Linked DNA regions of Homo sapiens: regions 1 and 2 are each linked to region 3. Evidence: fine-mapped expression QTL. A gene starts in region 3. Each other region holds a variant in brackets. All regions are shown on one strand. Distances are from middle to middle.

Evidence for each region. PIP is the estimated chance that this variant, and not a neighbour inherited with it, causes the effect.
Region 1: its variant is fine-mapped to the expression of HMGB1 in whole blood (TOPMed, PIP above 0.99).
Region 2: its variant is fine-mapped to the expression of HMGB1 in whole blood (TOPMed, PIP 0.99).

Annotation. Positions count from the first base shown.
Region 1 is chr13:30,437,282-30,440,035 of GRCh38, reverse strand. No RefSeq gene overlaps it. Among named protein-coding and RNA genes, the nearest start is that of UBE2L5, 16 kb to the right of the region's middle. The variant C/T (reference allele first, on the strand shown) is at 1,110.
Region 2 is chr13:30,419,980-30,422,733 of GRCh38, reverse strand. UBE2L5 (ubiquitin conjugating enzyme E2 L5) reads right to left here and starts at 241. Exons shown (of 4, transcript NM_001355247.2): 1 at 57-241. It overlaps LINC01058 (long intergenic non-protein coding RNA 1058), which reads left to right and starts at 490. Exons shown (of 2, transcript NR_125771.1): 1 at 490-517. RefSeq lists silencers at 279-568, 1,009-1,188. The variant G/A (reference allele first, on the strand shown) is at 1,462.
Region 3 is chr13:30,464,610-30,467,363 of GRCh38, reverse strand. It overlaps HMGB1 (high mobility group box 1), which reads left to right and starts at 1,428. Exons shown (of 5, transcript NM_002128.7): 1 at 1,428-1,568. RefSeq lists enhancers at 469-1,244, 1,245-2,020 and silencers at 1,456-1,765, 2,365-2,754.

The DNA of each region.
Region 1 (2,754 bases), 27 kb after region 3:
GACACACAGGAGGTCTGGATCTCTCACTTATTTCAGGATTAATGTACCCAACCATGCTACATTCCCACTGGAGAAAGCAAGTTAATGGCACTTCCAGACAAATTACGCACTATATCCTTAGATCATGTAGGTCAAGGGTCAGCAAACCTTTCCTGTAAGGTTCATTTTCAGTCTGCAACTTAGGTCTTCAGTGTTGTGAGTTGTAGGGTCTCTATCACAACTGCTCAGCTCCACCATAGTAGTTGGAAGCAGCCATCGGCAATCCAAAAAGAGCGAGCCTGGCTGTACTCTAAGCAACTTACAGTTACCCAAACTGGAGGCGGGCTGGATTTGGCCCACAGATAGTTTGCCAAACCCTGATGTATGTTATTAATAAAGAATCCTTTGCATAGATAATGTATTTTTGAAGAAGAATTATTTCTGGAAGTTACTTTAATTGGGGTACGGCCAGTGGGCAGTTAGGAGCTCTCTTTTGAACTAACCTATTCATCAATTAGCCATTCCTACTATTTTCTTTTCTTTTTTTTTTGAGACAGGGTCTCACTTTATCACCCAAGCTGGAGTGCAGTGGCACCATTACCACCCACTGCAGGCTTGACCTCCCAGGCTCAAGCGATTCTCCTGTCTCAGCCTCCCAAGTAGCTGGGACTACAGGTGCCAGCCACCACACCTAGCTACTTTATATATTTTTTGTAGAGACAGGGTTTCACCATGTTGCCCAGCCTGGTCTCTAACTCCCAGACTCAAGCAATCCGCCCACCTTGGCCTTCCAAATTGCTGGTATTACAGGTGTGAGCCACCACACCCAGCCCTAATTCCTACTATTTTCTACATTTGGACTATGAAATTTGACTTTTCTAATTCTACTGCGAAATCACATAGTGAGTGTGTAAAAGTGATGGTGTGTGATCCTCTTCACAAATTTCTATTCCCTTCCTTATCTGTTGGGAGACATTAGACACATTCATTTGAAAAATTGTTCTTTTCAACCAGTTCTTTTATTTCCATACACCATTTAAAAAGTAATTCCCACTGCATCTACACAAAGTTAAAATATATTAATTTGCTTCAATATAGCATTTTCTTTATTGTGTGCCAGAAAAATATCA[C/T]GGAAATTTTCCTGTACTGAAAAGCAAATACCGCTTTTCCACTTGGGCAGCCTCTCCCATCCAATCGTCATTCACATACACCTTCATCATTCACTGGGTTCTCACTGAGCACTCCCTCTTAGCCATGCAGGTGCTCACAGATGTACCCCAAAGAGGAGCGGCGTGCAAAGCAACATGTCTTCAAATTCAAAAGTGACAGTGGGTTTGAGGACAAGAGAGGGGAAGAAATCCAAATTTAGAGGAAGAGTAGCAAGTGGTAAGGCTTGGGCCCAGGAATGAGCCAAGCGCAGGCGGGGAGAATAAATAGATTAGCTCAGCAACAGAAGAGGAGCCCAGCCTTTGGAGACTACAAAGGGTCATAAGGAGGACACAATTATTAAAGTAATGCAGAAGCCACTGTAATTTCTCAAGCAGGAAACTGACAGTGACAAAAATGGTGCTTGGCCAGGTGCAGTGGCTCATATCTGTGATAAGTTAGCCAGGTGTGGTGGCTCACACCTGTAGTCGGGAGGCAGAGGTGGGAAGATTGCCTGAGACCAGGAGCTCAAGGCTGTAGTGAGCTGAGTTCATACCACTGTACTCTAGCCTGGGCAACAGAGCAAGACCCTGTCTCAAAAAAAAAAAAAAAAAAAAAAAAAAAAGCCAGGTGCTGTGGCTCATGTCTGTAGTCCCAGAACTTTGGGAGGCCAAGGCAGATTGATCGCTTGAGCCCACAAGTTCAAGACCATCCTGAGCAACATGCCAAAACCTCATCTCTACAAAACATAAAAAAAAAAAACATTAGCCAGGCGTGGTGGTGTGCCTATAGTCCCAGCTACTCAGGAGGCTTAGGTGGGAGAATCCTTTGAGCCTGAGGTGAAGGCTGCAGTGAACTGAGATCGTGCCACTGCACTCCAGCCTGGGCAACACAGTGACACCCTGTCTCAAACAATAAAAAATAAATGGTGCTTTAGGCAGCGTGTTCTGTGGTTTCCCGGCCATTGGAGGTAAAACACTCACTGGGGCTGGGTCACCATGGGGCAGGCAAAATGGACATTAAGGTCAGGGTCCAAGAAGATTCCACAGGAATCAAGAGGATGATGGTAGTGTCACCAATTCCAGAACAATTGAAAAGATGTGGTGCTCATTTGAGAAAATGGTTTGCATCTTTAGCCTGTGCACATGTGATTTTAGGCTAATTTTCACACGGCCGTCGAGAGACTTGAAAACCTCTAGGTATTTTCATGCTCCTAGAGTGAGGATGTTCTATGGGTGGGTAGAGGTGGGTTATCTGTGTGGGTTTTATGCACTCTTCTTTACAGAGAGGTGGTAGCTGAACCAGGTAAGGAGCTTTCTGTCCTTTCTGACATCTGTTTGCTTAATGATCTCTGCCTACACCCTGTAGAGTTTGAAAAGCAACGTACTAGAACCATGTTTCTTCTGACATACGCTGGCTGTACAATGCACACGCTTTCCGACAATATCCACATCAGACACCTCTCTGCTGATTCTAGGCTCCCAGACTGTGGCTTTTGATTTATCCTGTGAATTGCCTGAATTGCCAGCTCTGGCTAGGCTGGCTTCTGAGCACAGCTATCATCACTCAGGCTGCTGTTCTGTCGCGGCTCAGTCTGTTTTGTCCGTACCACACTGGTTGTCGAACTGT
Region 2 (2,754 bases), 45 kb after region 3:
TTAAACGCAGCAGAGACTCACAAGCATCCTTGTGAATGGATTAAAAAGGCACTTACAGGGATGACCCGCAAAGATCCTAGTTTCAAGACACAACAAAAAGCCTCCAGGAAGTGAAGCCAGCAGGTTCTAATCTCATTTATTTTCACGGCTATGTTTTTTTAATTGTAGTTTTCCACTGTAAAACCAAAGAGCATCAAAGGAGAACAGCTTTCCCTCTCCCGGAAGCCTCACGGAGCGGAGTTCCCTGAGCTGCGCGGCCGCCGGTCACGGGGAAGTGCCCCGCGCGCGGAGCTCCCCAAGCGCCCAGCCCTGCCTGCGCCGCAGCCGCCACCACCGCTGCCACCACCGCCGCCGCGGCCAGGGAGCTGCGCTGGGCGGGGCTGGGCTGGGCTGGGCTGGGCTGGGCTGGGCTGGGAGGGGCGGGGCGGGGCGGGGCGGGGCGGGCGTCCGTAGTTATTTATTTATTTAGCGGCTGCAGAAAAGCTCTGCGGCGCTCGCGAAACCCGAAGACTTGCAGGTAGCCAGGCGCTCCCACTCGTCCAACAGCTCCCGGGCTGGCTTGGGAGAAACTAAGGAACTTGCTTCGCCCCCCCGCCGCTCCCTGGGGCCGCTCGCCACCCGCGGAACTTGCCATCCCCGCTCTTCCCCACTTTCTACCCCCACCTCCGCCCGCCCCACCTTCCCCTTTCCCCGCTTTCCCCTCTCCCACCTCCTCCTTCTCTCCCCTCCCACATCCCCGGTCTCCCACTTCCCCCTCCTTCCCGACCCACCTCTCCCTCCTCCCCGCCCCACCTCTCCCTCCTCCCCGCCCCACCTCTCCCTCCTCCCCTTCCTCCTCCTCCCCCCCGCTCCTCTCCTTACCACCTCCTCCGCCCTCCCCCACCTCCTCCCCGGTCCCTTCTCCACCCCCTCTTTCCCCACTCCGCTCCCCGGGCGGCGGGCGGCTCCCTGGCTCCGGCGTGTACAGATTTGGGCAGAATGTGGTTCCAAGGCTCTCGGTCAAGAATTCGGAGGAGGAAAGTTTGCTGGCGGCGCCGCGGCTCACACCACTCCCCGCCCTGGGGGCGGTCCTCGAGGCCGGGCCCCGCCGCCCGTGCTTCCCTTCCCGGAGCCTTCGCTCTTCCCCGGGAAGGCCCGGCCTTACATAAGGGCCCGTGCGCCCGCCCCAGCCCTGTGGGCAGCGCGCTCTTGCTCTGCTCAGTTTAACGAAGATTCTGCTCCTGAAACTTAGTACAGATAAAAAGGGCAGCGGTCCGTTTCATTTTAGACAGGAAAATGAGGGCGCAAAAGGGGACTGAGGGAGAGAGGCCAGAGAACAAGACAGCAGGTTCGTGCTGGTGGCAGGTGGATGGGTAGAAGGTTCCTTGAGAGCGGAATTTCCTATTTGGATGCCTGTGCAGAGGGAAGTGGCTGTAAAGATCAAGTAGCTTTGATAACGCCAAGGTAGCCTGGACAACAGAA[G/A]CCCAGGGAAGGAAAGGGGGCGGGACTTATGCTGCCAGAAAGGATGATCACTATCCGGATCTTCAGTAGGACCCGCGCCTCAGCGAGGGCGCGTGTAGAGGAGATGTGGGTATGGGCCATGTGCAGGGAGCATAATGCCTGCGTCTCCAGCGCAGGCCTGGCATACAACAGGCACACCATAAACAGCTAACACGTGGGCACTGTGCTAAAACTTTGCCAACTTGGTTGCATTTAATCCTTAGAACAATTGAGCCCTCCTTACTCCCATTTTACACACGGGAGACTGAGACCTGGATGGGCTAAGTGACTTGGCCATGACCACACAGCTCTTTGCAGCCGACCGAGGACTCAAACCTTGGACTCCAAAACTCATGCTATGGGACAACTTCGTATTTGGGAGGCGTAATACAAAAGGGTTCAGCTTTGGGGCAGAGTGAAGGGGCACCGCGTTTCGAAGATGGGCAGGTAGGCTTGCAGCAGGTGGATATGTATGTTCCCACAGTTCTCTCACACTCACATTTCACCATGGACACAGCAGAGCTTTACCCCTCAGGACGTTACTGAGGCGGTTCATTAGCCCGAGTTTCTGAATTCCTCTACTTCCTCCACAGTGGGTACTTGAGGAGCTGTTGTCTCTGGTTAACCCAAGTCTCCTTGTGGCTCTTTAGGGAAATTCCCTGTGCCCAAGACTGGTATCCATGTGCAGAGTTACTGGACTATCCAACGGGATTAAAAACAATTCCCCAAATTCCCATTCTTCTGGGAATTCGTGGGATTCCTGGCCCACACAATATTTTATAAGGGGCCTAACCTGGAGCCTAAGGATGTGGGTGTGCAGGAGTAATGATGATGGGACATTCTTAGTCTAGCGTGAATGTGTGTCCCTTTGCTGCTTCTCCCCAGCAACTATGAAACACCTGATACTGTTAGGCCCCTCCGATAGTTTCTTTTTAAACGGTTTTGAGATCCCACTAAGGATGTTTTTTTTTGCTTCAGTTGCTATTTTTACTACCGCTTAACATCCACACACTCATACGAACCCAGAAGACACCCTAATCCCCCCCAAAAGTGAGAGAAAGATTTGACATCCCAGCCTGCTAAGGAAGTCAGTGGGAAGCCTGGTTTTCAAATCAAATGTCTACACATGTTCCAATAGAGTACAGAGAAAATCGGTGTTTAAGAGCCCATGTGGTGGGATAATACCTTAGGGTGCTATCTGATAGTTCATTTATTTCTAAACCTAGTGTAGCTGCCATATTGATAATTAAATATCCCATAGGAGCTCTAGGAGGG
Region 3 (2,754 bases):
TTAGGTTATGGATGCTTATAAGCGATATAAAAAATCAAATTAACACGATGTAGGTGATTTATTCCAAATTTGATCTGTTACATTTGGAGGAATTGGTTGTTGGATTTAGAAGTGTACAAAATACCATTAGAGAGTGAAAAAAAAGGGAAGTCTGTTATAACTGAATAGGGGCGTGGTCTGCTCAGGCTAAAAGGAATAGATAGTAGTTTCATAAAGGACTGATATAACTGTAGAGTCTTCAGAACTGGCCACTACAGCCAGCACATTTTCTCTACAGACGTAAGTATGTCTATTAATACCAGCCAGCTTGGTGAGTTAGAGAAACCACAGCCTGTGGATTTGGGCACATGCACTCTCTGCCTGCATCTAATCCTTCGGGTAACCATATACCTACAACTCCTGTAATCCTAGAGCAGTTACATGGATGCACTAAGTGGTGTGATGGGAGGGAAAGATAGCATCACAAGGATTCGTTTGATTGTAACAGTAATCCACACCAAGTCAAATAAAATAGCCAAACAGTTTAGAATGTGGTCTCTAATGAATTTGCTAATTCTACCAGGGCCTCACAAACATTTCCTGCTAGAGTACCCCATATCAAACCAAGTGGCTGTTCTTTAATTACATGGAATAATTATTTGATTTCCAGGAAGTTAAGACAGTGCTTTGTATTTAAATAAAAAGTTCTAGACATGCTGTGAAACTCGATCAAACCAAGAAAAAGGGTGAAACTGAATGCCTGCTCACTGACTCAAGATTTCAGCTGCTCAGCGAGCCTGACGTGACGGCTTATGAGCCCAGAAAAGGGGTATTTTAAACCCGGCTGGCTGGATCATGTCACTTTCTTATAGAAGCCCTGCCTTTCCAGAGACCTAAAGTGTAACGCAATCAGAGACCTTTGAGGGGCTCGAGGCTCGGCGGCTTCCGCCCCTCAGCACCAGCAGAGACCCCAGTTTTCAGGGGACATGATCCCATAGTGTCGCCCTCACTTTTGAAGGGCCATTAAAAGCCTGGGGCCTCTTATCTCAACGGCTTTGGGCGTGAATGTGGGGCAAGAAGGGGGGGGGAGACCTGTGGGTGTCTCTTTTGCCTGAGGAGTTGGAGACACTTGTGGAAAAGTCAGGCCCTTTTCGCTCCGGCGGCCGCTCCGGTGTGGGGCTGGCTTGGGTTAGACACATGCACACATACACCATAGAGCTCTGCTTTCCCGTAGCAGCTGCTGCCTCTGCCTCTGCCTCTCCCGCCTCAGCCTCTTTGCCCGGCATACACACACATTCAGATTTGCGCGCTGTTTCAATCCTTGATGACGTGTCCCCGGAGACAGCCAATAGCAAACGGGCTCTGGTCAGGACAATGGGAGGTATCGGGCCAATGAGCGAGCCCCGTGAGTTGGCGGTAGCCAATAGGAGCCGCGCTGGCTGGAGAGTAATGTTACAGAGCGGAGAGAGTGAGGAGGCTGCGTCTGGCTCCCGCTCTCACAGCCATTGCAGTACATTGAGCTCCATAGAGACAGCACCGGGGCAAGTGAGAGCCGGACGGGCACTGGGCGACTCTGTGCCTCGCTGAGGGTGAGTCTGGGGCAGCGCCGCGGCGGGGAGAGCGCCTCCGGCAGCTCCCCAGCCCGCGCGGCGGCCGGATCCCCGCGGCCGGGAGCCGGCGGGTCAGGATCCACACAAAGGCAAATGAGGGGGGACCGTGGGGGGAACTGCGCACGGAGCGAGCCTCTGCCCGGGCGCCGGGAACGCTGCCCCGCGCCGGTGCCCCGGCCCTCAGGCAGCCTGAGGCGCCGGGAGCCCCGCGCCCCGCGAGTTTCCACCCCCGGCGGCGTCCGCGCTGACTGGCGCAAAAAAAAAAATTTTTTTTTTAATTAAAAAAATTTTGAACGTGTTTTGGGCCCTCGGGCCGGGCGTTCGGGCGGGCGGCGTGCGCGGAGCGCGGCCGGGGCGGCGGGGCCGGCGCGGCTCGGCGGCGGCGGCGGGAGGGCAGCGGCGGCGCTTCCCCGGGCTGCATTGGCCGCCGCCGCAGCGAGCCGGGCGCTGGCGGGGAGCGCGGCCAGCCGGGCGGGCGGCGGGGCGGGCGGGGCGCCGCGGCGGGCGAGGGCGGCGCGGGGGCCTGGGGGCGGCAGTGCGGGCCCGGCCGGCCTCGGCCCGGTCGCGGCGGCGGCGGCGGCCGGGCGGCGGGGGGAGCGGCGCCGCTGCGCTCGCTGGAACATGGCTGACTCGGGCCCGGCGCTGCTGGCTGGAGAGAAAACAAGGCGGGCGGGCGGGGGAGCTGGGCGCAGCAGTTCCGAGGCAACTTTTTTTTTCCTCTCTCTTTTCACAGCCCCGCGTTCTCCGTGCGGGGGCGGCGGGGCGCGCGGCCCGCGCGGAGGGAGACGGGGAGTGGCGGGCGGGTGGGCCCTCGGGCGGCCCCCACCGCGGCGGGGGGAGGGGAGCGGCGCGGAGGGGAGGGCCCGGCCGCGCGCCCCCCGCCCCTCCCCCGGCCGTAATGGCCGAGTGTGTGCGCCAGAGCGCGGCTCGCACCCCGCCCGCCGCCGCCGCCGCGCCCGCACCCTCGCACTCACACACTCTCTCATACACACACACACACACACACACACACAAAGGGAAGGAGCCATATTCTCGCTCGCGCTCGCCCTCGCGGCGGCGGCGGCGCAGGCGGAGAAGACGCGCAGCGGCCATTCCGTGCGCGCCGGCCCCGGCGGCCGCGGGCGGAGCCAGCCCCCATTTCGAGCGGGGCTTCTCCCTGCGCCGA